Regions from separate parts of the Homo sapiens genome. Here regions 1, 2 and 3 are each linked to region 4. Evidence: fine-mapped QTL for protein levels in blood plasma. A gene starts in region 4. Each other region holds a variant in brackets. All regions are shown on one strand. Distances are from middle to middle. Region 1 overlaps SVEP1 (sushi, von Willebrand factor type A, EGF and pentraxin domain containing 1). Region 2 overlaps SVEP1 (sushi, von Willebrand factor type A, EGF and pentraxin domain containing 1). Region 3 overlaps SVEP1 (sushi, von Willebrand factor type A, EGF and pentraxin domain containing 1). Region 4 holds the start of SVEP1 (sushi, von Willebrand factor type A, EGF and pentraxin domain containing 1).

Region 1 (8,201 bases), 150 kb before region 4:
ACTTTCAGAGCACCCCTAAAAGGGCAAAATGCATATTAAAGGGGCATCATTTTTCTTCTCATCAAGAGTTTTAATTTCAGAAAAATAAAACTGTCTCCTAACAGTTATTTTTTTTTCCTTTCAGAAAAAGACTACACGTGGTAGTGATTTGGGACTATGTGTACTTCATATTAATTTGATTAGCTAGCTCAGATAGCTTCCCCATATATTATTGAAATGTCATCACTTTATATGCTAATAATGATACAGAAAACAATAAAGCCATATTTACATCATACTTCATATATATAACACACTTTTATAAAAATGGTCTCATACCCTTTAACAATTACATAATTTAGATGGGCAGATCTGATTCAATCTTTTCAATGACAGAAAAAGTTTCCACAGACTATGATCTTGCATAGAACAAATGGGCCTGTAAGAGAATGTGGCCCAACACCTTCATGTCTTAGCTATAAAGTGGGAATAATACTTCTTCTGCCAAACTCCATCTTTGTAGAAGGAAGTACATGAGATGATTCACATAGAATTCCTCTAAATAAAAAATCCTCTTCAAATGAATAGATTTTTTAATCGTTTTCATAATTGTCTTAATTGATTCTTTAAATCACTTTTAGATAAACGTTAGGCAGACATAAAACTCATCTTACTATATCTTCTAAGTGAACAATTTGTGAGGATGTGTATGATTTGTGAAGAGGAAAAGGTATAAATCTGTACATGTAGCATCATCTTTAATATTCAAATATACATGCAAAGACAAAATTCTAGGAAGAAATGAAGTAAAATATTACCAATATTTGTCTTTGGGTAATAAAATCATGGATGACTTTTAAATATAGATTTTGTGTTTTCTAGTTGTATATGGTGATCATGCATTACTTTTTAAATCAGAAAAAGCCCCAGCAATAGTCAATATCTAGATATTGTTTGGAACATGTATATTTGCTAAGATTTCACAAACATTTAAATGACTAATTTTAAATAGTCCTATCAGTTCATTAGGGGTAGTTTCTTATGTGAGTGAGTCCACAGGGGATAGATGGGACAATCAAAAGCCATTCCTGCATTGACATTTTAATATTAAAGATTCCTTGTTCACTTAAGAAGATGTTAAGATTTGGGCTTCAGTTATTTATGCAAGTCTTTAACTCTTATTATCTTTTCGCAAGAAAATATTGTTGCCACCTGCTGGCAGTCATGTATTAGTGGAATGGTTTTCTACTCCTGTGAAGTAAAATCCAACTTCCATGAAAATACAGAAACTGCACCAATCATCATAATAATGGCTAAGTTTGTTGGGTTCATTGATTTTTTTTTTCTGGTTAGGCCATGTATTATATCATTTTATTTCTCACAATATCCATAAGTATGAACTCATTTTATGCAGGAGGACCATCAAGGCAGAGCGGTCACACTATTTCCCTAAGGCCCCACAGTTAGTGAACAACAGAGTTGAGATACAAATCCAGAAAATGGCAACTTTTCTGCTGTGTCAGCTTGTGAAGAACAACTGTAGTAAATCTGGAGTGTGAAAGCCCTATTGATGAAAATATTTATTGAGGATGCATAGAGAAAAAACAATGATTGCAATGAAATGAAACTCAGATGACCTGAGATTTAGCCACCCCTCCATACTTTATTGGTTGCATTGAGACCCTAAACTGATCATCCCAAAGGGAGTCTTTCCCTTCACTGTCCCTCACAGGGCTTTTGCTAAGATCAAATGAGACAATGAGTCTGAAAGCCCTTCGTAATTTGTTACCTGGTTTCCAGAGGTGATCTCTGAATTAAATAAGATCCTTAGAAATGTAAAAACCTGAACTTTATTATCTTTTTTCCTCCCTGTAGATATGTCATCTTTATGTTATGACTTAAGTCTTGCCTTTGGTTTTGCAGAATATAAATACACGAACGCTCACTTAAAGGTACTTTTTGCATCTTAGTAGTACAATATAAGGCTGGGTGCAGTGGCTCATGTCTGTAATCTCAGGCTGAGGCAAGTGGATCACCTGAGGTCAGGAGTTCAAGACTAGCCTGGGCAACATGGTGAAACCCTGTCTCTACTAAAAATACAAAAAGTAGCCGGGTGTGGTGGCAGGCGCCTGTAGTCCCAGCTACTTGGGAGGCTGAGGCATGAGAATTGCTTGCACCTGGGAGGTGGAGATTGCAGTAAGCCAAGTTCATACCAATGCACTCCAGCCTGGGCAAGGTGATAGAGCAAGACTCTGTCTCAAAAAAAAAAAAAAAAAAAAAAAGTATAATATGAAGATATTTTTTCACTGCATTGCCCAATGTCCATTATTGAGGGTCTAATTTGATATACTACTCAAATTCCAGGAAAATATTATTTCCACAGGAGAATATACTCCGTCTCTGCAGGTAGGAAATAAAAGCATAAGGCTCTCTTTGTCTTTGGCTGCCAGGAAATTAAATTTCGTGTCCAATGGAGCCCATCTCTGCAGTCAGGAGCATCCACTTCCTTGGCTCTCAATGATCCTTTCCTTCACAGGCCCTACTCACCCTTCTTTGCAAGTGTAAGTGACGGTGTTCCTGAAAGTGAAGTTATTCCCCGTAATGACAGCATCTTTGATGGCAGGTGGTTCTCCACAGAAGACGAGGTGACAGGCAGGTGGCGCTCTGTCCCAGATGCCAGAAGCCGTGCATTCAATAATGGAAGGGCCCTGTAAGCTGCGGGAAAGAATGATGTTACTCTTTCATTGGCTATGGATTTGCTGCTATGGAGATAAAACAGGAAGAACTCTGGAGAAAATAAGGGACATTTGAGGAATTTGAGTACACAAAAATAGCATTTCTTCATATTAGATTGCTTTATATGAAAGCAAGAGAAATCTAAACAAGCTATACACCATTTGAAACAATGAATGGGTGAAAACAATATAACAACAGTAATCACTTGGTGCATAGTAAAATATTGAATCTGCTTATGGGCAGTGGTGTAAGGCACTCCAGACCTGTGAAGAGCAGATTACTTGGATGAGAAGGGGTTCATTAGACTGGTTAGAATCCAGCAGGAAGAAAGACACTCACCTAAGTAGCCAGGAAATCAGGGCAACTAAGGTCAAAGGGAACTGTCCAGGCCATGAGCCTGGGCATTTGAACCATGCTGCCCCTGACTCTGACCTCTGGTCTTCCTTTGACTTAAACCTCACATCCCTATGCCATGGCTTATCTGCCTTTCTTCTCAACTTGATTCTGATAGCATGCTTTAATTCACTCCACTTTCTCTTCACTCGATCTGTTCCACTTCAGATCCTGTTGATCATGTTTCTGATCACAGTCTGACTTTCTCCACTGTCCCCTCTGTTTAAACACACACACACACACACACACACACACACCATTAATCTCCTACAGTGTTAAGAACCTAGCCCCTTATCTTGACATGCTTTTTCATAACATTCCATGCAATGTTGAGTACGTTTGGTAAGCTGTTTATAAAGAAATCCATCACAAAAGCATTTATCGGGTATTCTGTTTATGCTTCATAAACTATTTTTGCTTTCATGTTTAAAGTCTGAATGCTTACAGCAATTGAACTAGGACTCTCAGAGTCATAGTTAGATAGAATATTTTCTTGGGCATTTACCATTAGCTAGGTAGGCCTCGGGAAGCATACAGATTTGAGAACATCCTCATATTTATAAATTTGTTTTTAGAGTCAGCCAGTCACGTACAAATGAA[AC/A]CTATTGAGTAAAGAATACAGGCACGGTGGCTCACACCTGTAATTCCAGCACTTTGGGAGGTTGAGGCAGGTGGATTGCTTGAGCTCAAGAGTTCGAGACTAGTCTGGACAAAATGGCGAAACCCACATCTGTACAAAATACAAAAATTAGCTGGGCATAGTGACGCACACCTGTAGTCCCTGCACTCAGGAGGCTGAAGTGGGAGGATCGCTTGAGCCTGGGAGGCAGAGATTGCAGTGAGCTGAGATTGCGCCACTGCACTCTAGCCTGAGTGTCACAGTGAGACCATGTCTCAAAAAAATTAAAATAAAATAGGGAGCGAGTAACACAGTATTGTAGAAAGCTTGGTTGGTGTCTACAAATGTTACCTGTATCCTGTATCGCATGAATATGATGCAGTAGAAAGGTAGGTAAGCCCACTCAAAATATATTTTCCATTATTTATATTTTCCGGACTAGAACACTTCACTGGTTCACACACAGGAGGGGAATGACTCCAAGAACTGTTAGCAAGACAGGATGATTCTTTATCACCGGCCAGAGTATATCCTTTATTACACCTAAAGAAGATAGAGGAAAATTACAGGATATAATTTGCTTTATTTTGCATGCCGTTATCTGTGCCAAAAACCTCTAAAAATATTAAGAATTTATACATATTGGAAAAGTTGATTTTTTTTCCTACTGAAATAATGCTTTTAAATTAATTTTTTTTTTCAAGATTGAATACTGTATATCTTCCCCATAGGGAAGTAGGATAGATTTAAGAATTTGGCTTGCCTTCAGTTTGTGTCATGGATTAGTAACTACAAACAGGGAATCCTTGGCTTGAGAGTGGTGTGGTCTAGTCTGTTTCTGAGACATCAAGAGTATTCATTAGCTAGGAGCATCCACTCTCAGGGTGCCTCAAGGGGGCACTGGAGGTAATGATAGATTATTGGTCAGGGGATTTAAGGATTCTAGATATAACTACCATTAAATTATTGGATTAAGATTTGTTCACACTATGTATCATTCGATTAATTACATATTAATTCAAAAATGTCCTCTGCAATTATTTTCCCACCCCCTTTCTTTCAGTGTTATATCACTACCAGTATGCCATCAACATCTTCTACAATATAGTTTTAATCTTAGATACTTACCTATATGTCACTTTGCTGCCAAAAGTAAATGCTAACTCCTCAATGCAACCATTTTCTGGAATAGCCGGTTTACCACATGAAACAGCTTAACAAAGGAAAAACAAACACGTGACTTTTTTGAGACTGTGTGCAAAAATCTTTGAAATTTCAAGGGGCAGCTCAAGATCTTTTTTTGTTTGTTTGTTTTCTTTTTTTTTTTTTTTGGTGTGTGTGTGTGGGGTCATGTTTAAACATGAGCCTAATACCTCAGTTCAAATACAAAGAACATTGATACAACATAACACTTCATATGTCTACGCCTTACCTTTCTAGGATTGCCAAACATAAGAAACGTGGTAAATTTACTAAACATACCTTTACAATATGGTATTAGATGATTCCATTCTCCAGACTCCAAACATGTGATTTTGGTTACTCCCATCAACTGGTATCCTTCCTGACACGAAAATGTGACTTCGGCACCTACTGTATAAATCTCACCTGAGGAGTGGCCATTTTCCGGATTTCCTGGAGCCTTACATTTTATAGGTTCTAGAAACAGACAGTTTTGGTGGAATAATAAGTGGCTTTCACACAACCATGCAAAGTCTCACAGCAAAAGAATTCCACTATAGTTAAGAAACCTGTTAAAATCGCAAGAGAAAACCTCGTGAAGGGAAATGCATGAGGGCCCAGAGACACATTGGACATTAGACCAGAACATACATTTAATAAGCATTTAAGCAATAATAGTTTGAAACAGCAATTCCTAACAACAATATACATAATTTTTCTGGCTGCAAAGGTAGGCGCTCATTGGGAAAGTAGTGGTGGTGCTAGAGAGTGGCTTAGAAGGGCATTAGCCTCTTTCATCTGTTCCCTCTTCATACCCAGTTTTTCAGAGCAACTGACTTGGTGTCAGGCTGATGGAAAGGCTGAATAAAGCAGATTCAGGAAAGTTTCCAGCCTCCCTTCCCAAATAGAGTATGGGCTCTGGGCTCTCCCTATCTACAGATTCAGGGTCGGTCTCCACTGCTATAATAGGAAGGAGAAAAAGCTAAAGCAAGGTTTGGGCCAGTGTTGAGCAAGAAAAGTGAATATAATACTTGAATTCTCAAAACGGGAGGATATATTGCATCAATCTTTTCAAAGGCCATTTGAGCTATATAAGTCAAGGAGTTTAAACAAATTCTTAAAGTAAATGCAATTATGAGCTGATTTTGAGGAAAACAGCCAGAGGTAAGCATAAAGATGTATGTCCAAAGATGCTTATTAAACTGTTTTCCATAGTGAATATCACCTAATATTAACATACAGAGAAAAGTTACTTATGGAAAATCCATAAAGTGAATTATAAAACAGGAATTAAAATCCTGCTCTCAAACTATTTTGTGACACCAAAAATGTGCCTGATATAATATTACATGAAATAACTAAAATAAAGAACTGTTTATATGGTGTGTTCATATAGACATCTTATTGTTTTCCAGGAGTTACTCTTCACAACAAATGAAGAAATACAACAACGGGTTGAGAGATGATCTGGTATTATCAAAGCTATTTCAAAATATTGTAGTGCAAGATGTCTTGGGGAGGCAAGATGTCTATTTTTTTTCAATGATATAATTTTATGTGACTGAGGCAGAGGAAAGATATTGATAGTGAAGATGTGATAAAGCATCTTCCTTGCTCTGATTGAGGCAGGGATGTCACTGATTATATTTCTATATCCACTCTATTATTCTTGTACTATGTAGACGTTTCAACATTGTAGAATCATAGTTGGCTGTCAGTTTTGTTTCTGAGAAATTGGGAAGTTGGGGGAGGCACAATGCTACTTTAAAGCACTTTTAGTTGTTACTGATGTGTCTTTTGTAAGAACTTTATCTTATCTGCCTACCTGTATGCCCTTTGAAGTTGAAACAATTATCTCACTTAGAAATAACATACACTTAAAATATGTACTTGAATAAAAGAATGGAATTAGGAACTTTTAGTTCTACATATATTGGTTACCTGCACAGTTTTTCCCATCTCCTGTGTACGGTGGGACACATGAACATATGTAGGATCCATCTACGTTCAGGCAAGAAGCATGCTCACTACAATCTGATCCAACTGCACACTCATCGACATCTAAAATGAAGACAGCTTATAAATATTAAAGTTGATTCCTTTTCCGTATGTATCAAACATCTGTTTTTACTTTTAAATCATTACATATCACGTAATGCACAACACTTCATATATTTGTATAGAATTTAAATATAACAGTCATAATCACATTGCAGATATACAATAAAAGCTATTATTTCCCTAGTTTATAGGTGGGCAAGTATAAGACAGGGATATATAAATATAGTCTTAATATGGAGCCTGATAAAAATTTAAAACATTTCTGGCACCTCTACATACAGCTGCTTTGTCACTATGGCTTGGCCAGAGCTTACTGGGATGAGATAAAGTTAACAAAGCAATGCCTCAAGAACCTCAGGAATTTGGGATGACTGTCATCTACAGAGCTAGAATAATCTCATATAGTAGTTGCCAACATTTATCTCACCAAGGCAGGATGGTGAAACGCCGTTCCAGCTCCCATTATCTGTACAGAACATCCTTGAGTCACCCAATAGATAGTAGCCATTGTTGCACTGGTAGGTTACTGTGCTGCCAGCATAGAAGTCATCGGCTGAATGGAAGCCATTCTCCAAAGGAGGTGGCACCCCACAGCTAATGCCTGTAAGGTGACCAGGAAGAAGACAACGACATTAAGAGCAAAATACTCCAAGAACACTTTATTTGTATTAAACTAGCAGTTCAGTTAAGCATGACATTTTTACTGAATGCAAACATCAGACTGAGGGTGTCCTAGGGATAGCAGCAGCCTGAACCCTCAGCGTCTAGCACATTGCCTGGCTCACAGTAGGCATGCAATTCATTTATTCAAAAAACATTTACCCACTAGACGCTGATAAAGTTTGGATATTTGTCCCTGCCCAAATCTCATGTTGAAATGTGATCCCCAATGTTGGAATTGGGGTCTTGTGGGAGGTGTTTGGGTCATAGGGGCAGATCCCTCATGGCTTGGTGCTGTCCTTGCAATGGTGAGTGAGTTCTCGTGAGATCTGGTTAAGTGTGTGGCACCTCTCCCTCCACTGTCTCTCTTGCTCCTGCTTCTGTCATGTGATGTGCCTACTCTTGATGCCTTCTGCCATGAGTAAAATCTCCTTGAGGCCTCCCCAGAAGCTGAGCAGGTGCCAGCACCATGCTTCCTGTACAGCCGGCAGAACTGTGAGCCAATTAAATCTCCTTTCTTTATACATTACCTAGTCTCAGGTATTTCTTTATAGCAATGCAAAATGGCCTA
Region 2 (8,201 bases), 31 kb before region 4:
TACCCTTCCCAGCCTCTAGGAAGCACTCTTCTCCTTTCTAATTCTACGAGATCAAATCTTAAAAATTTCCACATATGAGTGAGAACATGTGGTGTTTGTCTTTCTGTGCCTGACTTGTTTCACTTAACAACTCCAGGCTCACCCACGTTGCCACGAATGATAGGATTTCATTCTTTTTTTATGGCTGAGTAGTCTTCCATTGTGTATATAGACCACATTTTCTTTATCTGTTCTTCCATTGAATAGACCCTGAGGTTGATTCCATATCTTGGCTATTATGAATGGTGGTACAAGAAACATGCATATGCAAATATCTCTTTGACATACTGAATTCCTTTCCTTTGAATATCTGCCCAGTAGTGGGATTGCTGGATCATATGGTAGTTCTCTTTTTAGTTTTTTGAGGAACCTCCATACTGTTTTCCATAATGGCTATGCTAATTCACATTCCCACCAACAGTGTTTAAGAGTGCCTCTTTCTCTCCATCCTTGCCATCATTTGTAATTTTTTGTCTTTTTGATAGTAGTCATTCCAATTCCATTTCGAAGTGATGGCAGTTTTAGAACTTTTCAATGCACTTTTGTGGAGGCTCCTGAAGAGTTTAAAAAGCCATCAAGTGAAGGATGCATTTTTTTATGTGTAAATCTTACCAGTTACATGTGGCCTGGGGACAAGAATTCCACTGGCTTCAATCTCATAGAGAGATTGAGGCACATTTTGGTTTACATGCCTAGAGGACAGATTTGGCTGTTTTATTAGACTAATTACAAAGACCCCAAATCTTTCTCCTCCCAGTTCTGAACCTAGGCTTCAAGGGGCCTTACAAGCTTCCATTCTTCTTCTTGGAACCCTGCCGTCCCCACCTGAACAAGCCTGGGCTAGCCTGATGGAGTATGAGAGGCCACATAAAGGACAGCCTTGTTGTCCTAGACAAAGCCATTTTAGGTCAGACTATTGTCAGACACCCAAACACATAAGAGAATCCAGCTGAGATCAGCCAGCAGCCTACTCAACTCACCGCTGATGGCAAATAAATGAGTCAGCACAGCTGAAGCCCCAAAGAGATGTGCCACTGACCCCACACACTAATGAGCAATAACAAGCATGTATTCCTTATAGCCATTGCATTTTAGAATCATTTGTTACACAGCAACAGACAACTGATATACACAGATTGGAGACTCACCTGTGCATTCATACTGCAGACCTTTCCCGTAATACCCCTTTTCACAGATGCACTCAAAATGGCCTGTGTGTGTCCCACATTTGCAGCTTCCCATTCGGTCACAGCAGTCCTTGCCTTCATCACAAAGATATGAGCAGTGGACCATATCATCTTGAATAAAACTCCCAGAAGGTAGATCTACAAATAACATATGACAGAGGGCGATAAAAATGAGTCACAGTTCAATGTTACATTCTCTGGTCATTAAAATTTAAGTGCAAGCTGGAGAAAATATCTTTCCATATCCCTCTAATTCCCAACTGCTTCCTGCTCCCACCCAAATACGAATGTGTGTTATTTGTACTAGCGCGCTCTGGGAATTCGTTGAAGCCAGTTAAGTTATTCCAGTCTGGGACCTCATCATAAGTTCTCAAGGCCATTCAGGGTCAGGCAGAAATTAAGTAGTGTAGTGAGGAATCTCCAGATGCTGCAGGAAACAGTGCAGTCAGTTCTGCAGGTCATTCCCCTGGCTTCCAAAGCAGCAGCATTCCACTGCCTCTGGGTGAGGTCAGGCCCCAGCAACGAGTCCCCAGATCCTTGTTCCAATGAGAAACAAAGCCACCATCCTGATCACTGCACAGAGATGTTAATTGTGAGCCACCAACTTTGGAATAAACACTGTCACTTCTATGGTATTTGAGTAGGTAAATAAAGACCATTCTTATTACTTGAGCCATGCTCTGAAGTGAGGCATGCTGGGAATGCAATAACTCAGGCAGACCTGTTTAGAAAGTGACTTGACAGGGTGGGTAAGGTTGAATATGATTGACCCAGAATGGATGGCCTAGAATCACACAAACAGTAAGTCCTTTATTCTTTTCAAGAAGTTTGAAAGTTTTAGACTAAATTCCAATACTAGGTCCATGGGGCTCTAAGCCCAGATATTGTGATGGGCTTATAGTAGGAATTCAAGTGGGTGAGTTCCAGCAAGACACACGGGCTGCAATTGGACACCTTGGAAGGAGATTGGTGGTAGACTCAAATATAGAACATCCATCTCCATGCATCTAGATAGGGGCAAAGCAAAGGGAAGATTCCAGCCCCAAGGGAAAGAAACCAGTGCAACCAGGTACCCTGGTAAGCTCCTTCCAATAGACTGTGGTGTGGGTAAAAGATCTGTAACACAGGCCCTTAGGACTCAGCTCTGAGACACTGGACCACAGGTTTATTTGGCAGTAAAGCAAGTTAGGGAGCAAGGAAAACCTACTTGTCCAGCCTGGGTAATGCAGTGAGACCCTGTCTCTACAAAAACAATAACAATTTTTAAAAAAATTAGCTGGGCATGGTGGTACATGCCTGTTGTCCCAGATACTTGGAAGACTGAGGTGGGAGGATCACTTGAGCCTGGGAGGTGGAGGCTGCAGCGAGGTGTGATCACACCACTGCACTATATAGCCTGTGTGACAGAATGAGACCCTGTATCAAAAAGGGTGAGAAGAAAAGAAAAGACAAACATAGCTGTCAAGACTAGTGTACCAGCATTCAGGTCTGGAAGAGAGATAAGTGGAGGAGGTACAAATGGGGAAAGCTATTATTCTGTAACCTATGTCTATCGAGAATGGCCAGAAACATGAACAGCAGTGAAACCCAAAGTGGATCCATCTAAATTGAAAGTAGCTGCAGAGAACACAGAGGCAGGGGAAATGAGGCTCATTTCCTTTGATCTGATCATGTCTTTCCAGTAAAAACAGGGTTTTACTTACTAAACCTAGAAACTCAACTAAAGTATTACACATTTTAGATATTAGTTTAGTGTAATAAATGTGGTGTCTCCTAAAACCCTATTGCATTATGATAACCAAAACCCTTTCCTTGTTGACTCTAGTTTCTGGGTCAACTTCCATCAGGACAGAAGTCTCCACTCCTAGAAGACAGAGGGATGACAGGAGCTGAAATTTGTTGATAGCACTCATAATTTCATAATCCCATCTGGCAACACCCAGTATCTCCAACTGCAACCACCCTGTTTTCCCTCTTAACATATCACTTTCCTTGGAGAAAAGGAGAAATAAAGGTAGCCAGTTGCTGAACTTCTTCCATGTGCTACATACTATATTGGTGATGTTTTAAATATCTTATTTAATCCTCCTGAAAACCTCTGTGATACATATAATAATAGTTTCCATTTTTAAAGGAGAGAAAACTGAGGTTCATAGTTGTTAAATAAATTGCCTAGGGGAATTAATAATGATAATTTGTTAATAAATAATAAATATCAGTAATAGTAGACAGTTATTGAGTGCTGAGTATAACAAGCCATCAGGAACTTTCTCATCCCTTTATATGTATTAACCCATTTAATCCTTGTAACAATTTTATGAAGTAGGTACTATTCTCATTTCCTATTCTATTTACAAGAAACCTAAGGAATATAAAAGATGAATGATATGTAAAAACAAAACAAACAAACAAAAAAACAGAAAACGTCAGCTAGTAGGTAACAAAATCGGGATTTAAATCCAGACATTCTGGATTTTTAAGGCTTAGCTCTTAAAAATTAGATTTCATTAAGTTGCAGGCCTGGAACTTAGATCCAAACCTGTTTAAACGCAAATCCATACTTTATTTCCCATACTCAGTTTCTTGCTGCTTCTAAGCCCTGTCCTAAGTCCTTGCTCACTTCACTAAAATCCCAGCCTCCAAAAACTTTGGCCAGCATCATCCCTCAGAGAGATAAATCTTTTTTGCTTTATGCATGGTGGCTCATGTCTGTAATTCTAGCACTTTGGGAGGCCCAGGTGGGAGAAATGCTTGAGCCCAGGAGTTTGAGACCAGCCTGAGCAACATAGCGAGACACCATCTTTATTTATTTATTTTTTTTAAAAAGAAACTCCAGTAGAGCTAACCCACTTATTATGAACATCACTAATTTCTTAGAACTCATGTTGCCATGGTTTTCCCCTCAAACTGAATCTTTCACATGGATATCTGCAAGGATCAAGCCTAATTTGCCATATCACTTTAATCTGAGGCTAGATTTCCTGTGATTTCTTCCTAGTCTGTATTTTCTTCTCCTAGCTCACTAAGACATAAACCTATATTCTGATAGGAAGTTTAATTTATATTACACAGCTAACTTATTATAATGTATAATTATGATTTAATTTTTAAATTATAATTTATAATTAAATTATAAGTGATGCACAGAAAGCTCTAATAATGATACATTTGCTGATTTCCTTCCCTTTTAGGGTTAATGCTCTTAAGCTTTTACATAAGCATATCTATCTTCAAATGGTCAGGGCAAGAAGTATGTGTTAAGTATTTATTGTTCCTGTATCTTCATGTGTATTTCTGGAAACATTCTGGTAAGTTTCACTGAGCATGTCTCTGAATGTTTACTTCCTCTGTCCAGATAACTGTAAAGAGATCTAAGTCAAGGCTTCCCACTCTGTGTGTGGCCTCAAAACACACCTAAATTCATTCCACTGATTCTAAGGTGGGAGCATATGGATATTTTAGTGAAAACACATAACAGCTGCTAAGAAAAAAAACAAAAGGAACTCTTGTTGCAAGGTCAGAATGTCATCTCTGTGAAGTTCAGCACATTTCATGATGCCCAAAGGACACATGGGCATCATATTCAGCAAAGACCTTGTGAGAGTTTGATATTACCCTCCCATGGGTTTCAAGCAGTGAGAGGCAAGGAAGCCTCATTTAAAAGTACCTTTGTGATGCCATTAGGTTTCCATTACCTTCATGCAATGCCCGGCGAGCTAAAGCCTCAAATTCTTCAAAACTGTGTAGCAGGTAACAGTGCTCCTCCTTTGGGGTGGAAGCCATGTCATTCAGCTCTC[G/C]AATGTTCCCTTGCCATATGCCAAAAGTGAAGATCTCCACTCCTGAATCTCGCAGTGACGCTGCAATTGGTCTAGGGTCTCCCCCATTGGAATATCCATCAGTGATGAGAAATACAACTTTTGTTGAGTTTTCTCTAGCATGAAGAAGAATTTGCTGTAATGAAATGGGGAAAGTTAATATGAGTGTGTACTGTCTTGCCTACTGTGTGCTTCTCTTCTTACGTAAGGCAGTACTTGCAAAGATCATTAGTATTTCACAGGCATGAGGGATGGAAGCCCTAGTCAGAGTAAAACAGAAATAGGCACAGATGAGAGCCTACAATGATCTTCTCACAGAGCCACAATAAACCTCAAAAGCATTTAAAAACTATCATCCTCATCAACATTGCTGATGGAGCTTGCTAATGAAGTACAACAAACACTTATGGAATGAATTTTTAATCAATATTATCACTTATTATTATATTATTTTTATTGATTCTCAGGCTCTCAAAATATGAACAAAATCTGAATCCAAATTCCACAAATTATCTATCTATCTATCTATCTATCTATCTATCTATCTATCTATCTATCTGTCTATCATCTCTATCCAAACCACTGCATGGTCATACACCAAAATCCTAATGGGAAGGAAATTTAACAGAACATGTCTTTTCCAGAGTCAATAATGGCTGACCTGCTTCCTATATTTGTTTTTCCACTTGCTCCTCCAAAAAATGTAGAATTGATTCAATACTTCATCTTTTTGGACCACCCGGTACTAGCATAAAAATAGCTAGTTTTGGTGGTATCCAGAAATACTGATTCACTAAATCTGACACTGGGACTTTATTATTTTAGGACAAGTGAATTCTGTTTTACAATGATATATGCTCTTCCTTCTCTACAGATAGAATTTTAAAAAATGAAACCTTTTAAAAAGACATTTATATATTGCCATTGATGCTTTGTAACACCAGACTATAAAGGCACAAGAACTCCAGTGGTGAATCTGGCATTTAATTCAATTTGCTGTTGTTGCTTTTCACTACAGATGAGTAGAAAAGATAAAGAAGCACCAGGGTATATTTTCTGGTAAGTTCTTAGAAGAAATTCCTATTAAAAAATAAATTAATTTTTAAAAAAGAACTTCATGTTTATTCCGCAAGAATTCAAGAAACACTACATGTTTTTCAGAAGGTAGGCAGGAAGAGTGACAACTGCATCCTATGTTGTGTTAAAGTGAAAAGGAGATATTGTGATTTTTAAAATGTTTGATACAATTCACTTTAGGGTGCAGACTCACTATAAGATCCAGATTCTCTCAGACTATGAGATCCAGATTCTCTCAGACTATGAGATTCATGTCCGTAGAAAGCAATCTTCATTAGTATATAATCAGTGGGTATTCATTACAATTCAATAATTCTTACCTAAATTTAGTTAGTGTTTGTGAGGCAAAGCTAAAGCTGCTAAACCTGAATTTAAGGAAAATTAAATGAAACTAACAATGCCTCCAGAAATATCTGGAAAGCCAGCAGTTTGAGAAGAGGTATTCAAACATTTCACCACACTCTTTCTCAAAAATCAAATGAGATCAAGGAAAATCGTACAGATGGGACCACACCAAAGACAGGCACAGAGGGTGGCTTCTGCGACGGAGTAGCATTCGGGACGTTACTGGAGACATTCCCCAAATAAACACACCAAGAAGCCCAATCAACACTCTCAAAATTCTTGGCTCTTAAAGTTTAAAAAGCTGCCCTCTTGATGAATGACAGGAAGATTTGGAATGAATGCTTGGTAAGTGTGAAATTTTTCCACACTCCAGAGAAGAAAAAACCTCTGAGGAGAGGAAGAGGGAAAGAGTTAGGGGAGAATGAGAAATGTGAGATGTTGCTGTGAGACCCTGAACTCTCCACACTCTCTCCACACCCCTAACTCTGTCACAGAAGAGATGATTGACAAGCCTCCCTTTAGGCATAGAGGTCCCCAGGTCCTCTTTCCATCTGGATATCTGGGATGGTGGTACATCCCAAAGAAGTGCCCTTGGTCATAATGACAGCGGACAATAGAGCAGTGGTACCCAACCTTTTTTTTTTTTTTTTTTTTTTTTTGAGTCAGAGTCTCACTCTGTCACCCAGGCTGGAGTGCAGTGGTGCGATCTCGGCTCACTGCAACCTCCGCCTCCCAGGTTCAAGCGATTCTCCTGCCTCAGCCTCCCGAGTAGCTGGGACTACAGGCACATACCACCATGCCCAGCTAATTTTTGTATTTGTAGTAGAAACAGGGTTTCATCATGTTGGCCAGGATGGTCTTGATCTCCTGACCTCGTGATCCACCTGCCTCAGCCTCCCAAAGTGCTGGGATTACAGGCGTGAGCCACCACGCCCTGCCACATGAGCCACCACGTCTGGCCAGTCCCCAAACTTTTTGGCACCTGGGACCAGTTTCCTGGAAGACAATTTTTCCATGGAGTGGAATGGGGCTGGAGGACAGTTTCAGGATGATTCAAGCACATTATATTTATTGTGCACTTTATTTCTATTATTTTTACACTATAATATAGAATAAAATAATTATACAACTCACTATAATGTAGAATCAGTGGGAGCACTCAACTTGTTTTCCTGCAACTAGATGGTCCCATCTGGGAGTGATGGGAGACAGGGACAGAGTGCACAACTTAGATCCCTCGCATACAGTTCACAATAGTGTTCACGCTCCTATGAGAATCTAATGCTGCCGCTGATCTGACCGAAGGCAGAGCTCAGGTGGTAATGCTCACTTGCCCACTGCTCACTTCCTGTTGTGTGGCCCAGTTCCTAACAGGCCATGGATCAGCATCAGTCCACGGCCTGGGTACTGGGGCCCCCTGCAGTAGAGTAAAACTACTCCATTGGGTGGTAAAGGAGAGGGCACCTGAAGAAGCTTATGTATTCCAGAGAGGTATAGCAGAGAAAGAATCAATGCAATTTTAAGACACCTGAAGGAGTCTTGCAATAATAAAGGTATGGCAGTAGATGACACCACAGACCTTGTGAGCCAAGAAGAGATGTGTCTCTCTTGGGCAATATCCATGGGAAGAGATCCTGGAAGCCGCAGGAGATAGCTGCATTAAAGGTTATGAAACTAACCAACAGACATGCGGATGACCAACAAAGACCATCATGACTATTGATGAGACAACTGGGCA
Region 3 (8,201 bases), 72 kb before region 4:
AATCATAGCTCATGATACGAATCTTGACTTATGCATTAACATCAGTTTATTTTTGCTGCTGTGGTAGAGGCTTATAGTTGCCCACCCAATAGCCATTCTCACCAGTTTTATTAAGCATAGTAATATGCCCAGCTAAAAGATTACAACTCTCCACCTCTACCTCAACTAATGAGAGCCCATAATATATAGCTGAGATTGAGCAGGACTTCTGGAAAGCTTTTTATTTTTTTATTTTATTTTATTTTATTTTATTTTATTTTGTTTTGTTTTTTGTTTTTGAGATGGAGTCTCACTCTGCTGCCCAGGCTGAAGTGCAGTGGCGTGATCTCAGCTTACTGCAAGCTCCACCTCCTGGGTTCACGCCATTCTCCTGCCTCAGCCTCCCGAGTAGCTGGGACTACAGGCGCCCTCTACCACGCCCGGCTATTTTTTTTTTTGAATTTTTTTATTAGAGATGGGGTTTAATTGTGTTAGCCAGGATGGTCTTGATCTCCTGACCTTGTGATCCGCCAGCCTCGGCCTCCCAAAGTGCTGGGATTACAGGCGTGAGCCACCGCACCCGCCCTTGGAAAGCTTTTTAAAGGGGGCTGTCTCAATTGAGAGAGTACTTCTTTCCCTTCCCTGCTTCCTTCTCCTTTTCTTCCACAATACAGACATGAGGAATGGTAGCCCAGCATACTAGAGTATAAGTATATGATACTGTGGGAACATATCATGCACCATGATGGTATAGCAAAAAACATAGGAAGTCTGGCTCTCTGATGACAGTGGAGCTATTACACCAACTTTGGATTACCTACTTCTGTCCTTGTTTTAGTTAAAAGAAAAATGAAGCCTTAATTGGCTTAACACATTGTTATTTGGGTCCCTGATACCAGCTATACACAATTTCTAATTCCTTCTGCCCAGCATTTGGGTCCTTGATACCAGCTATACACAATTTCTAATTCCTTCTGCCCAGCATTTGGGTCCTTGATACCAGCTATACACAATTTCTAATTCCATCTGCCCAGCATCCATTAACTCTTCCTTTGTTAATTTTTTAGGGAAAGATCTTCCCCCTTTCTTGGATCATGGGATGTGTGTGTGCTCCAAACGTGCTCGGGGTAGAGCATGTTATCTAGGAGCACATTTCCCCGGCCAGAGAAGTGAGCAGGCACAACTTGTGACATGGTTTTCTTCATCTTCTTTGAATTCACCATGAGAAAGCAGTAGGAAGGATATTCACTAAACTGCGGATGCTGAAAACGCCCCCGTACCTCAGCCAGCCTCAACATCACCATCAGAAAAAGTGCCACGAGTTATCCAGAGAAACCTGCATTTCCGCGGTTCTGCCACCTTTGAGTCTCTGTCCTCAACATTACATCAGAGAAGCTACCAGAGAGCACTCACACTGTTCCAGCCTCTGCAGGTTCCCCAACGATGTCTGTGTTCTGAGTTTTCCTGGTAAGAGTCTCCAACTGCCCACTCAAACCCAACAATGTATGTTAGAGTCCATTTCCATTGATTTCATCATGCCCTCTATTCCTGTTGATGGCAATCACTTAGAAAGTCCAAGGCTCTATAGTTATCCCTCATCCACCAGGGTTATCCACATGTAGCTGTGTTCCAAATCTATCCCCATAGACCCTTGGACCTGCCCCCTAGAATAACGATGGTTTCAGTTAATCCCCTCATATCCTAAACTTCCTTTTGAGCAACTTTTCCTTCACTTGATTGCCCTAATAAAAATTATATTGTCTTCTGTAACAGGGACTGGAGGTGAGGAGGTGTCTCTGTTGCTCCTGATTGTCTTCCCAGATCATTCTCTCTCCTTCCTTCCTAAAAACTTCCAGCTCCTTTGAAGTATCATATTATATATCCAATAACCTTTTTTAAATTCTCTCTCTCTCTCCTTTCTCTTTTTTCTCTCTCTCTTTCTCTCACACACACATATACCCACACCTTAGTGACTTCCTTATCTATGTAAATGATCATTCCAGTATCCTGGAGTTATATTCCTGATCTCTTATTTTCTTTTCTCTCTTTTTTTTTTTATTATACTTTTAAGTTCTGGGGTACAGGTGCAGAACATGCAGGTGTGTTACATAGGTATACACATGTTATGGTGGTTTGCTGTACCCATCAACCTGTCATCTACATTAAGTATTTCTCCTAATGTTATCCCTCCCCTAGTCCCCAACCCTCTGACAGGCTCCAGTGTGTGATGTTCCCCTCCCTGTGTCCATATATTCTCATTGTTTAACTCCCTCTTATGAGTGAGAACATGCAGTGTTTGGTTTTCTGTTCTTGTGTTAGTTTGCTGAGAATGATGGTTTCCAGCTTCATCCATGTCCCTGCAAAGGACATGAACTCATCCTTTTCTATGGCTGCATAGTATTTCATGGTGCATATGTGCCACAATTTCTGTATCCAGTCTATCATTAATGGGCATTTGGGTTGGTTCCAAGTCTTTGCTATCGTGAACCCTAGAAGAAAACCTAGGCAGTACCACTCAGGACATAGGCATGGGCAAAGACCTCATGACTAAAACACCAAAAGCAATGGCAACAAAAGCCAAAATTGACAAATGGGACCTAATTAAACTAAAGAGCTTCTGCACAGCAAAAGAAACTTTCATCAGAGTAAACAGGCAACCTACAGAATGATCTCTTCTTTTCTAATGATCATATCCTTCACCTTATCTCAGCTTCTACCATTGCCATGCCCTCTAGACCTCGCTGTCACCAATCCAAGTTTCCTAGTCTCTGACAATCACCTCTTACCTTCTGGGATCACTCCTTCAAGTGCTTCAATCCATCAGTTCCCACACCCTCCAGGAGCCTCTGATCTATCATCTTCCGTAGTCTCCTCTTTAGAGAAAACCCTCTTGAAAGAGTTTATAATCTTGTCCTACACTTCTTGTCCTCTAGTTCTAACTTAGACTCTCTCCAATCAGGGTTTCCAAGCAGGGGAAGGAGGGAGGAGCGTAAAGGAGAAAGGAAAAGTCGTGAAGAAGGGAGGGGAGAAGAAAGGAAAGAGAAAGGGAGGGGAAACATAGGTGGAGGAGATGAAGAGGAGAGGAGAGGAGAAGAGGAAGAGCAGGGTGAGGGGAAGGGGAAGTCAGAGCAGGAAAGGAGTAGGGGTAGGGGAAAGAATAAATAGGGAAAAGAAAGAGGAAGATGGGGAAGCTGTCAAGACCCATGGAAAATGCACTCTCAGTCAGAAGGCATGCACATTCCATTCACGAACAGAGATTGGAGAGGAAAAAAGAGTCGGTGCCTGTTAAATATGCCAAATGATGGGGACGTATATTCATCTTGATAGATTATAGATAGAACCTACAAGCATTGGACATCGTACAAAAGACAGAAATAACCCCTACAAAAGAATAAAGTTCAGTTTCCTCTCAGAGAGCTCTTATAACAATCTCTAAAGATTTTTGAACAAAACATTTGGGACTCAAGAATTTTGTTGAGACTCCGGGTGGGATATATTTTTTCTTCTTCTACTTTTCTGCATTTGCCAATTGTTCATACCATGCATACATTTAGTTACGTCAAAGACAACCTTAAAATACCAGGAAAGGAAGCTGGGGGCAAAATGTTCAAGTGCATATTCAATTGAAGTCACTGTTTGAATTTATTCTACAATGAACCCATTCAAATTATATTAATCAGCAGAGCATAAGTATTGTGTGCATTAAATAAAAGTTTAGGATCCATTACTCCTTAGAGAAAATGCAAGAGTTAGATTAGAGATTAGATCATAAACCCTAGCCTCTTTTATCCCTGGAATGGCTTGGACCAAAGTCAAGTATTAATAAAAAATGATCCGAAACATTTTGCCTTCCGTGTTTTAATTTTTCCTGAATGTGCCCATTTATGCAAATAGAATCTTTATTGTGTCTATCAAGTGCATGAAACATCTTGTCTTCTGCATTTTGACTTTTATTGAGTGTGTCCTTCATGTGTATCCCAAGGCAAAGTATGAGGTGGGATTAAAAGGTGAATCAGATAAATTCTGATGTATAAAATTTGGAAAACCATATTAAACAATGTTTTGGCTTCAACAAACTGCCAAGATGACTCCAGCTTTCCTAACCTGAGACAAAATGGATTTATTACTGATAATAAATTAGAGTCGGTGCCTCATATAGATGCAAATTATACTGCTTCTCAGATGTTGGTATTAATAAACTTCCATTGCTCCCCACTGAAAACAAAACATATGCAATAATTCCTATTTATTCCTTAAACATTTCACTCAAGAATGAACACTTAATACCATTTTAATAGGTACACACTTCTTAAAGAATTTTCAACTTATATTTTTTTCATTTCAACATGCCGAAAAATCCTGCAATTAATATTTCTTGACTTACATTTATGTTATCACAATTCCTAAATATTTATTTGGTCTTTTTAGAAAATAGCAACTTAGACTTTTAAGAGAAAAGTCTACTTGTAGTAGACAATATAAGAAGCTACTCTGGTTCCCATCTTAAAGACTAATCAGATTTTTTTTTTTCCAGGCACGTGCTTCCTATTAGTCTCCAAATTGTGATATCTATTACTGAAAATAAAATAAATCTGATGTTAAATGTAAGGTTCTCATTGGTTGAACCTTTTTACTCAGGTTTAGTTAGTTAAGATTGAGAAACCACAAAAGAATCCTTTCCTGTTTAGAAAGAAATGCAGAATTCTGGCCGGGTGCGGTGGCTCACGCCTGTAATCCCGGCACTTTGGGAGGCTGAGGCGGGTGGATCATGAGGTCAGGAGATTGAGACCATCCTGGCGAACATGGTGAAACCCCGTCTCTACTAAAAATACAAAAAATTAGCCGGGCATGGTGGCGGGTGCCTGTAGTCCCAGCTACTCGGGAGGCTGAGGCAGGAGAATGGCGTGAACCCAGGAGACGGAGCTTGCAGTGAGCCGAGATCGTGCCACTGCACTCCAGCCTAGGTAACAGAGCGAGACTCCATCT[CAAA/C]AAAAAAAAAAAAAAAAAAAAGAAAGAAAGAAATGCAGAATTCAGATAAAACTGAAAATGAGTATAAGTGCTTTATGAAAAGTGCATAGGAGAAGTGAGAATCAAGTTTACCAATTATTAGTCAACATCCACAAAAACATTAACAATGTAACATGATATTTGTAAAAGGCTTTAGATTTTATGCAGGTCTTTCATTTCTGCCTCAATCTTACACATATTTTTGAGAAAGTATAATATAACTAAAATTATTCACTGTTCTTATAATTAAATCTGTAAAAATATACTACTTTCTCCATACTACCCACCATGAAACAGACATGAAATCCTACCCAACGGCCATATTTCATTGAATCCCCATTGTAAGACACAACATTATTTTATGTGCCACTAACAAAGAAACAATAATGCCAATTAAAGGGTTTGCTGCAACTGATTTTAAGATGCATCTCCATTTTAGAGATGTTAAAATGTTTTAAAAAATGTGTTTCAGATTTAGTGAAATATGGCATGTGTTTCAGATTTAGTGAAATATGGTATGCGTTTCATAGAACAATATCTGATGTAACTAAATACACTGAGCATTAGTGAAAGTGTAAGGGCCTGGGTAAGTACCTTCATTCAGTACAACTTTGTATACTGGTAAGTTAGCTGTAGCTTTGGTGGTGAAGTTGAATTGTAGCATCTCTCCTTACTCTGCTTTAAATTATTTTATTTATATTGGAATTGCAATTGAAATTACATAAAAGAGAACAAGCATGCTTTTTTGTAGTCAAGGTCTCAATCTATCACCCACGCTGGAGTACAGTTGTGTGATGATGGCTCACTGCAGCCTCCAACTCCTGTGTTCAAGTGACCCTGCTGCCTCAGTCTCCTAAGTAGCTGGGATTACAAGCTTGTGCCATCACACCCATGCATGGTTTTTAATATGAAGTGACAGAAGCAGGTCATCAATGTATATACTGTAGTTATCAATGTACATCAACGTATACATTTATCGATATGTGTATTTGTTAACTTCAAGTTTCCATTCATTCACCAGAGATATCATCAATGATTGAGGGGCAGAAATAAATTCTGTGCTCATAATGAATTTGGTTTAGCAGAGGAGGTAGACAAGTTAATTACCAATAAAAGTGTGATGCTTTGTATTGTGACAAGTTAGTTACATTGGGAAATATGTTTGCCAGAATCCCTTTATTGTGGTTCCAAGTTAGGGTTGATCAAAAGAGGAACTTGCACTTGATTTTGGAAGGCAGAAGTGAGGAAGTGGTCATTGTCATCAGAGTCAGTGATAGAAAAATGCAGTGATGCCCAGGGGGTTCCAGCTTGCCCTTGCTTGCCTCCATTCCACGTCCTCACTGCTGATCCCATGACCAGTGGTGGCCCCATGTTCATTGCAAGGTTCTTGGCTGCAGAGCCACAGGGGCATAACTACACAGAGGTAAAGCTTCTCTTAGACCTTCCATGAGTTTCTCCTTAGCAATTCCACTTCAAAAGCTGGGTAGCCTCTCAAGTTGACTTGTCAAGAACTCCTCTGATCCTCCCACTCCTCTTCTGTTTCCAAGCTCCTTCTAAAATTGTGTAAGCTCTATTCCCTGAAATAAATCCTTCATCCCATAACATGCATGGTGACTGTGCTTCCTTGACTGACCCTGACACATAGCATAAGAAACATAATGAGGGGTGGGGGCAGGTCTGCAGATGCACAGATGCACGTGTAGAGGTCACCCCATTCAGGAGGAGGAAGTTGGCAACAGTGGAGGGTTGAGAGGACCCAGAGCAAAGGCAGAGCCAGGCTGTGGGAACAGCTTCAAAGGGCCGGCTTCCTGAGAGAGCATGGCTATTTCTTACAGCTTTAGGATCAGACGCGAGGCTTGATTATGGAGGGTGCAGGCTTGAGAGGCAGGGGCCAGACCTTATCCTGAAAGGGCAGTCTTCTCTGATTTTCTCACTCCTCTTTGGAAGGCTACTGAGTGGCAAGTTAAAATGTAATATTTCCCATCCTCTACCGTAAGGTATTTGGAAGAAGGGGTAAAGATTTTACACAGAACTTAGAACTATTGACTTCACGAAAATATATTTTACAAGCTTTCAAGGATTCATTTTTTCAGTAATGGTATGTGGCTTTTTACCACTTGAGGCTGCATGACTGAAAATGTCTTTCCTTTGCCTTCACACATGAACAGTAGCTTGCCTGAGTTTAGAAATCTAGGGTCTATTCTTTTCCCTCAGAATCCTGGCAACACAGTCTTATTTTCTAACATTGAGAATGGCCAACAAAGGGGCCTAAGGCTAATCTGATTCTTTCTCCTTGGTAGGTAGTGTTGTTTCTAACTATGAAATGGACACAGTTTTCTGTTTTTCTAGGGCATTCAGAAAATTCACTAAGATTATTTCCCGACATAAATCTGTTTTTAATATTTTTTTTGTGGCACTTACTAAGTGATTTTAAACTGAATATCCAAGATTTGGGTTGTGAGTATTTTCAAAATTTCAGCTCAGGGATATATCTTTAGATCTTCTACTGGTGCATCTCCTCCATTCTGTTCTCTCTCTGGATTCCTCACGTGAAAAGAGTCTATTTCCTGTGACTATTCTCATGTTACTTTATTCTTTCATATTTTTATTTTTGGATTTTTTTGATTGACCTTCAAATGAATTTCTTGAGTTAGTTTTCTAATTTATTAATTTGACTTCTAACTAGGTCCATTCATTGTGTCAGTACCTTTTTTTTTTTTTTTTTTTTTTTTTTTTTTTTTTTTTTACTTCTAATACATATTTTTCCTCTCAAATTTCTTTCATTGCTTGGAATCCTGGCCTTATTTTAGCAATGTAGTTGCCTTTGAATCTCAGTGATTCCATTTTTCTTTCTTTTCTGTCAGGTCTCTTTTGTTCAATCTGCTGATCGTTTTCAGTTTTCCTTGTCTTTTGGGGATACCATGTAGGCCAATTTACATTTATAGATGAGTTCAGTATTGGTACCTAATAAATTGGTACCAACATAGATGTCTCCTGGGATTCACAAATGATCTTGGAGTCATGAGTAGGTGGTTCTCCCTTATGGATATGGATGCCAAGAAAAGACCAGAAGACAGAACTAATCTTTAACCAGTGGTCCAGCTGATTTGTGGGGTTTTGGAGTAGTCAAATCCTCAGCAAAGTGTTCTGCCAAAAAATGACTAGTGGATGTGGTGGGAGTAAAGTTGCCAGATTTAGCAACAAACAAACCAATG
Region 4 (8,201 bases):
CATTTGTTGCCATCACCTTAAACAAAATTAAAGCGCTGAGAAAAAATATTTGCCACACACTTGGGTCACTGACAGCTGAGGGTTAATACCATTAAGATTTAAAGAGCATTTGCAAATCAATAAGAGAGCCACCCCCAGTTAAAAACTGGATAATAATCCTCAAATATCTTAGTGGGTATTCAAAAAAAGGAGCTATATATGGACAATAACATGTTTTTAAAATATTCAGCCTCACTAATAGGGAAATGCAATTTAAAATGGGACTCCATTTCTCACTTAGAAAGTTAGGGGGTGGGGGATGGAATCTTCAAATGATATTAGCCAGCACTGGCTGGTCTGAACCCCAGGTCCTGACACTGGGGCTGCATGTGGAGGGCAGGTTGGCACCATTTTCTGCAGAGCAACTTGACACATGTATTAAATGTCTTAAAAAAACATGAATATTCTTTGATGCAATAATGGCACTTCAAGAATTTGCCTTAAGGAAATGATTAGAGATATGGACAAAGATTTAGTTACACAATGTTTGTAACAGCCTAAATACATAGTAATAGGTAGTCTCACACACACACACACACACACACTCACACACAAAAGCACATTCTACAGTGGAAAACTGTGACCCTGAAAAATAATGATAGTAGAAATATGTTCCTTATTTTGGAAAGAAGACTGAAATATATGGTGGGAATACAAAGTCAAATTACAAGAGGATGTACAATTGAATCCTTTTTCCTGGGTAAACATAATTTAGGCATAATATATGTATGAAAACATGCCTATTACCTAGACAACTGAATAAAGTCAAGGAAGCTATGTACCAAACTATGACGGTATATTTTCAGGAAATAGTTTTCCTGATTATTTTATTTTCTGCAATAAATATTTATTATCAGTAAAATAAAATATATATAAAAAGAGAAAAAAAGAATCAAAGAGACTTCAACAAGAATCCAAATATAGAAGGCATATTTTTAAAAATCAGTGTTTCTATACGTCAAGAAAAGTTGTTTGAAATTTAATTTTAAAAGATGCTATTCATGACAGTAATATTGAACAGAATATATTTAGATGTAAACTTGAAAAATATATACAGGACTTAACTTCTAAAAATCTACAACTTTGTTAAAGATGTATAAATGTATGTGTATAAAGAATATGCATAAATGCTATTAAGCAAATTATATGAACCAAATAGTGCTGGGACAACTGCTTATTCATTTAAAAAATAAAATTAGACATCTTTGTCACACTATGCACAAAAGTAAGTTCCAGATGGATTAAACTGCTAAATAGAAAACTATTTCTCTGATTTGGGAAATGAGAAGGCTATTCTAAGACTTTGAGAAAATATAAGGTCTTACACTTTTGAAATGGAAGAATTATTACTATAAAATACATATAATCCCCAAGTTAATTCAATATTTTCTATATTGAAATCAAAATCCTTACTGACTTCATTGGTAATATGTAAAAATGAATTTAAAATTCATATTAAATAATAAGTGGGTAAGAATTAACTAGAAAAAGAATAGATTTTTTAAAAGGAGAATTTGCACTACCAGATATTTAAATATGTTGTAAAGTTACAATAGTTAAAACATTTTGGCAATGATACAAATGAGATAGAGAATGGGATGAAATAGAAAGCCAGGAAGAGATCAAATACCCATAAGCATTTAGCACATGATAAACATGACATTCAATTAAATTGGAAAAGGACAGATGGCTATTAAGCAAGTAGTGCTGGGACAACTGGTTAACTATTTATTTTTTAAAATCAAGTTAGACCTCTTTGTCATATCATACACAAAAATAAATTCCAGATGGATTAAGCTGCTACATGGAAAACTATTTCTCTGATTTGGGAAATGAGAGAGCTATTCTAAAACTATGAACAAATATAGGATCTTAAGGAAAATGTTTGATAGATTTGAGTGTATAAAAATGTAAACCATTCATCTAACAACATTTCCATAAACAAAAATAAAAGGCAGTGAACTGGAAAAACATTTGCAACATATACACAAAAGAATTACTGGCCTCACTATATAAAGAACTTTTGCAAATCATTAAGAAAAAAAAACAAGCCAATGTGTTAAGAAAAAACAAACAAGCACTATAATGGCAAAATGGGCAAAAACTATAAATATCAGAGGAAAAAATACAAATGTCCAGTAGATGTACTGGAAAATGTTCATCCTCAAAAATCAAAAATGTGTATTTGCTAAAATGATGCCTCCATCACCTCTTAAATTGACAAAGATATTAAAAAGAATAGTATGATATTGGTGAATATGTGGCAAATTTACTGCTGAGATACTCTGCTGATGAGAATATAAATTTATACAACCCTCCAAGGGAGAAATGGACAATAGTATCAAGAAGTTACAAATGTTCATAACCTTTAGTTCAGGAACTTTTATAGAAATTCTTCCTAAAGATGTAAACAGAGGAGTCCACAAATATTTATGTTCACGATAACTTAGTAAGGAAAAATCCTAAGTGTCCAACAATAAGTGATTGTTGCACGCAATGGAATAGTATGCAGCTAATGTAGAACATTTTAATTAGGATATAACAAACGAAAAATGTAGGCTACAAAACAGCAAGATATTAAAAGTATGAATGGATGTACATACTGGGCAACTGTTCAACAACCTGCAAACAGTGGCTTTTTTAAAGTGATGAAATTTTAGGGTTTTTTTTTCCTCTCCCTACTTTTTGTTTAATTCAGTCCACAAACACTGGCTTGCTATTATGTGTTAGATATTTCTATATGTTTCTTTTTCCCCCACTGAATATGGATTAATTTGTAATCAGAAAAACAGACACACTTTACAAAAGTCCGACATCCCAAACTGACTTCCTCTTCCAGATATTAAAAATCTAATAAAGGATTGGAGCAAAAATAGGAAGGGCACGAATCTTACATTGAAAGCATAACATAACTTTAAAAAGAATTGGGGTTAGGTTTATATCACTCCATGTCCTACCTTTAGAAACACTTTGTAAACCATGCTCACCTGTTTCAGCTTGGATACCGTCTGCTCCTACAAACGTGAATGTGATTAGCGTTTCAAGGATCCCTTCCTAACAGGGTCCTCGAAGCCGACTATCTAAGGAGCCTGACATCCCTCTAAGCGTTTTAAAATCCATTATCCCATTGGAACCTCCACAACAATAATAGGCGGGTAGCGATGACTCTGGTTTTGTGGATGGGGACGCTTGACTTGGGGTGGTTATGCCTTGCCCAGGACTGAACCCCGGGATAGAGACGGGCAGGCAGCGGTGGGTCGAAGGGCCCGGGGACTAGGGCCCGGGTCGGGAGGGGCGGGCGCCTTACCGCGGCTTGCTGGAAGGCGCCCTTGGTGTAGGTGCCGCCACCTCGGTAGGAGATGGCAGGGATCTCTTGGAGGAGCAGCGCGCACTTGTGCTGGCGCGCGCGGCGGGTGGAGATGTAATCGACGCGCGGCACCACGTAGTTCTTGGACGAGAAGGTCACGATGGCCACGCGCGTGGCCGTGGGCACCACGGGGAAGTCGGACAGCAGCTTGCGGACGAACATGAGCTCGCTGCGGAAGTTGACTTCGCCCACGCTGGACGAATCATCCACCAGGAAGACAAGCTCCAGGCGCTCGCTGAGCTCCCGCAGCAGCCGCACGCGTCGCCGGAACGCCTGGCCCAGCCGCTCCACTCTGCTCCCCGCCGCTTCGTCGCCAGGAGCGGGCGGCGCGGGGATACTCCCGGGGGCCCCGGGCGCGGTCTCGGGGAAGAGGCGGAAGCTGAAATTGCGCGACGGGGACATCTGCTGAAAGGTCGCCCAGCCCGAAACGAGCGCCAGACCCCAGCAACAAAAGGCCAGGCGAGGCCACATCGCGCTGGAGACAGAGCGGCTGCCCCGGAGCGCAGGCGGCGGCTCGGGCGGGAAGAGGCGCTGGGCGGCCGGACTCGCAGAGGGGCGTGCGCGGAGCTGGGCGCGGGGCAGCGGCCAAGAGCCTCAGCGCCCTTTCATCTGACACTGGGGACAGACACAATCCAGACTCCTCAGCAGCTCGGGAACTCCGGAGGGAACGGCGCGCGCTCTCTACCCCTCTCGCTCTCCTCTTTTTTTCTTCCCTCTCTCCTCCTCCTCTCTCTCCCTGAAGCCTATAAAATGTTTGAAGGAAAGGGGGCAGTCAAGAAAAATCTCCCGCTTCCCTCCTTCTCTCCCTCTCTCCCTCTCCCCGCTCCTGTCTACTTTCTGTATCTGTGACTCTATCTCCCTCCTCCCCCTCTCATTCTCCTCCCGGGATCAAGCCAAAGGCTCGGAGATTCCATGACACCAGAACCCCGCGTCTGTCAGGCTGTCAACATTCCCGCAGCAAGCGCACCAGCGCCGAAGCCCTGATTGATCCCATATGTCTGGCAGGAGCTGCAGAGGAATTCACTGGAGATGGATCCAGATACCGAGAGTGCCACAGTAATTGGAAACACTTTGTAGACGAAAACATACACGCGGACTGGCCAGGGAGTTGAAAGCATCCTTTGAAAACTGCTTGCTCACCTTTTGTGTTTCTTTTCCCCCATTCAGTGTCCCAAAGCCCTCGCCAAATAGATGATTGTACAATTTTCCTGATGGGGATTTCTAATCAGTGGTGTGTGTGAGCGTGCAGATTAAGCCCTTAAGGGCCCCCTCAGATCACACCATAAAGGAGTTGCATCTAACCTTATGCGTTCCACAGGAATGATTTGTCATGGTACTTCAGTCGTGCATTTATTCATTCATCTGTTTGTTCATTCTTTCCTGATTTTAACAAATATTTTTTGAATACCCATTGTGTGCCAGGAACTATGTGAGGCACTGCAAATATAAGGAACAAAAATTGACAGGGATTCTATCCTCAATGAACTTAAAGGGTAACAAGTGAGGTGACCATTAACCAGATATTAACATACAAAATATATGTAATTACAAGTGACCATGCTAAATAAAGGAGAGCTTAGGTAGACAGACTTGACCTTGGAGAGGCCAGAGAAGCCTTCTCTGAGGACAGAAAGTTTGTGCTGAAGTCTGAAGTGTAAGTAGGGGGTCCCCAGTCCCCTTTCATGTGTTCTTGATCTATTTCAACAGATAAGATCCACCTGGCTTTAAGTGGTACCTGGCATATATCTGCTTTGAAACAAGTTGCTACCTGGGGTGGTTTTTCCAAAGCAAGACCTCCAAAGGGGAGAGCGCACGTGTAAAGAAAAGGTGCACTTTGCATGAGGGTGGGGCCTTTGGTTAAAAGATTCCAGCTGGGAGTCAGGAACACCGTGTAGGTAAGCCTACGGTTATGTAAACCACCTGAACTGAGTCACTTCCAATCCTTGGCTCAGCATCAGTATCTATTTCATGATGGAATTCAGTGATCTCAGTTTCCTCTGTTTCTAATAGTGAATGATTTAACTCCGTCTGTATTTAACAAAATACTTTCAGTGACAAGTATCACAATGTATTGTGTAACATGTTAGGGCTCTGGCATCAGTTTTCCTGGACGAAATCATGACTCTGCCATTTATTAGTTGTACAGCCTTGACTCAGTTTGTTCATTTGTAAAATGGAGTAATAACGATAACATATTAAGGGCTGTCATAAGGATTAAGTCATAAAAAAGTAAAATTCTTAGGACAATGCTTGGAGCATAGCGTGTACTCAATAAATGCTGGCTGGTTGCTCTTATTGCCACCTTTAATCATGAATGTTCTTCAAATTATTTTCCTAACAATACTTATTGACCACCTGCTATGTGCTGGCATGTTAGATACGGAGGATTTAAAGGTGAATAAGACTGAGTTCCAGTCCTCCAGAAGTTCAAAGAACATTAGAAAAGAACATAGATTTGCAAACAATTACAAAGCAGTAGGGTGACTGCAAAAGCAGAGAAGAAAGAGCAAGGAGGAGAAAGATCTCGTTCTTCCTGGGGAATGAGTAAGACTTCATTTGAGCTGGGACTTTTTTAAAAAAAAAAAAGTTTTTCCAAATATCATCTACTCTGTGTTATTTAAAACACATCATGAAGCCCTTTATGTGCAAAGCACCGTGGCATCTGCAATGTGTGCCATCTCCTGTGTTCCCCACACAAACCAAGGAGGTACTCAATTGCTTTAGAACTCTTGCTGCAAGTAAGTGGCACCTAATGTCTCCTCATTTAAACAAAAAGGGATTTTTTGGTTAGTATAACTAAACTAGGGAAAGGGCAGAGGGTACAGCTGGTCTCAAAAAGGCTTGGAAAAGGAAATTAAAAACTACTTAGGTCTTTAATTTTTCTCTCAGTTTGGCTTCTTTTTGGATGCCACATTTAGTCTCTTCTTCGGATTTATAACCTGAGAAAGACTTTTACCCCACCAACTCAAGTTAATAATATTTTGAGATGTCTGCCATAGGCCTAGACACATTCAAAGCTCTCTGGATAATTCTAACACATGCCCCAAGGGTGAACGCCTAAGAACAGCACTCTGGCATTGTGTACCTCCAACGGGATGAACAGTCAGGCCTATGTTACTTGTCCTCATGGTAAGAGAGTGGGGACACATCAGTCAGAGAAGTCCTGCCTGAGTGTTATTAAGACTGCTGCTCCAAGTCTTGCCACCGCTCCCCAGAGCCCTGTAGTCCCTTCTGCTCTCTAATCTAAAGCAGTGGTTCCCAGCGGGAGAGATTTGCATGTCTCACTCCCAGGAACCTTAGGCAATGTCTGGAGACATTTGGGGGATGGGGCAGTGCTACTGGCATCTAGTGTATAGGAGTAAGGGGTGCAACAAAACCTCCTACAATGCACTGGCAGCCACCACAACAAAGAATCATCTAGCCCCAAATGACAATAGTGGTGAGGTTGAGAAACTCTGGCCTATACCACAGTAATAGATGCAGAAGATGACAAAAACTTGTTAGACTAAACATTAAGATTAGAAAGGCTGGGCACAGTGGCTCATGCCTGTAATCCCAACACTTCAGGAGGCCGAGGCGGGTGGATCATTTGAGGTCAGCAGTTCGACACCAGCCTGACCAACGTGGTGAACCCCTGTCTCTACTAAAAATACAAAAAAAAAAAAAAAAAAAAATAGCTGGGCATGGTGACACATGCCTGAAGTCCCAGCTAGTCGGGAGGCTGAGGCAGGATGATCCATTGAACTGAGGGGGCAGAGGTTGCAGTGAGCCTAGATCGCACTACTGCACTCCAGCCTGGGCAACAGAGTGAAACTCTGACTCAAAAAAAAAAAAGAAAAAAGAGGAAAAGAAAAAGCAACTTAAAGGTATAGAAATGACAACATGGAGCTGAAGTGTAAAAAAAACCTACCCTGACTTCCTGACTTCATCTCATGAAATAAAGACTTCTGGAAAAAAAAAAAGTGTGTTGGTGGGCTAGGGCAAGAGGCATGCATTATATAATTCTCACCACCTAAACTGTGATTCAGAGTCCCACATTTTGTTCAATCAGGAATGGAACCTCAATCCTGTCTACCCGCTGGGACCTCTGCTTGAGTCGAGGACACCAACTACACCCTCCCTTCACAGCACCCATCTTTCTACATTGAAGCTGATACTGTGAACAGATAAGTTGCAACGTGCATATGGGGAAAGATGGAAGAGGGACTGAGGAAGAGAGCAGAGTGGTGCTGGTAAAGATCCTCCTGAGATTCCAAGCATCAAGTCCAGTCATGGGAGCAGAGGCAGGAAAAATGTCTGTTTCCACGCATGCTAGTTGTCATGTTTTGTTTTAAAAACAAAACTATAACACAGTGTCAGTGAATCACAGCGGCAGGCAGTGGAGATAGGAGGAAGATGCCACCTTGTGACTGCATTATGACTGTATTTATAAGAATATCTTTCTGCCGTGAATTTAACAAAGACATTCTCTCACATACAGAGGTTGGGAACATCTGCCACTCTATATGTTTCTTTTTAAAAAAAATTCCCATCAGTTTTTTGGGGAACAGATGAGTAAGTTCTTTAGTGATGATGTGTGAGATTTTGGTGCACCCATCATCTGAGCAGTATACACTGAACCCAATTTGTAGTCTTTAATCCCCCACCCCCTTCGCACCCTTTCCCCCTGAGTCCCCAAAGTCCATTGTGTCATTCTTATGCCTTTACATCCTCATAGCTTAGCTCCTGCTTATGAGTGAGAACATACGATGTTTGGTTTTTCCATTCCTGAGTTACTTCACTTAGAATAATAGTC

What was found. PIP is the posterior inclusion probability: the model's chance that the variant is causal. Protein levels are from the aptamer-based SomaScan assay of Sun 2018.
Region 1: its variant is fine-mapped to the plasma level of the SVEP1 protein (Sun 2018, PIP 0.95).
Region 2: its variant is fine-mapped to the plasma level of the SVEP1 protein (Sun 2018, PIP 0.95). The variant lies in the coding sequence of SVEP1. If it changes the protein, the assay may bind it differently, which can mimic a change of level.
Region 3: its variant is fine-mapped to the plasma level of the SVEP1 protein (Sun 2018, PIP 0.95).

What each region holds. Positions count from the first base shown.
Region 1 is chr9:110,425,065-110,433,265 of GRCh38, forward strand. SVEP1 (sushi, von Willebrand factor type A, EGF and pentraxin domain containing 1) reads right to left here. Exons shown (of 48, transcript NM_153366.4): 31 at 7,398-7,571; 32 at 6,851-6,970; 33 at 5,210-5,386; 34 at 4,856-4,940; 35 at 4,079-4,270; 36 at 2,527-2,694. Among named protein-coding and RNA genes, the nearest start is that of TXNDC8, 91 kb to the left of the region's middle. The variant AC/A (reference allele first, on the strand shown) is at 3,709.
Region 2 is chr9:110,544,928-110,553,128 of GRCh38, forward strand. SVEP1 (sushi, von Willebrand factor type A, EGF and pentraxin domain containing 1) reads right to left here. Exons shown (of 48, transcript NM_153366.4): 2 at 4,922-5,177; 3 at 1,188-1,364. Among named protein-coding and RNA genes, the nearest start is that of SVEP1, 31 kb to the right of the region's middle. The variant G/C (reference allele first, on the strand shown) is at 5,024.
Region 3 is chr9:110,503,795-110,511,995 of GRCh38, forward strand. The region is part of intron 5 of SVEP1 (sushi, von Willebrand factor type A, EGF and pentraxin domain containing 1); the gene reads right to left. Among named protein-coding and RNA genes, the nearest start is that of SVEP1, 72 kb to the right of the region's middle. The variant CAAA/C (reference allele first, on the strand shown) is at 4,966.
Region 4 is chr9:110,575,667-110,583,867 of GRCh38, forward strand. SVEP1 (sushi, von Willebrand factor type A, EGF and pentraxin domain containing 1) reads right to left here and starts at 4,075. Exons shown (of 48, transcript NM_153366.4): 1 at 3,347-4,075. The coding sequence starts at 3,877. RefSeq lists enhancers at 2,942-3,442, 3,443-3,943.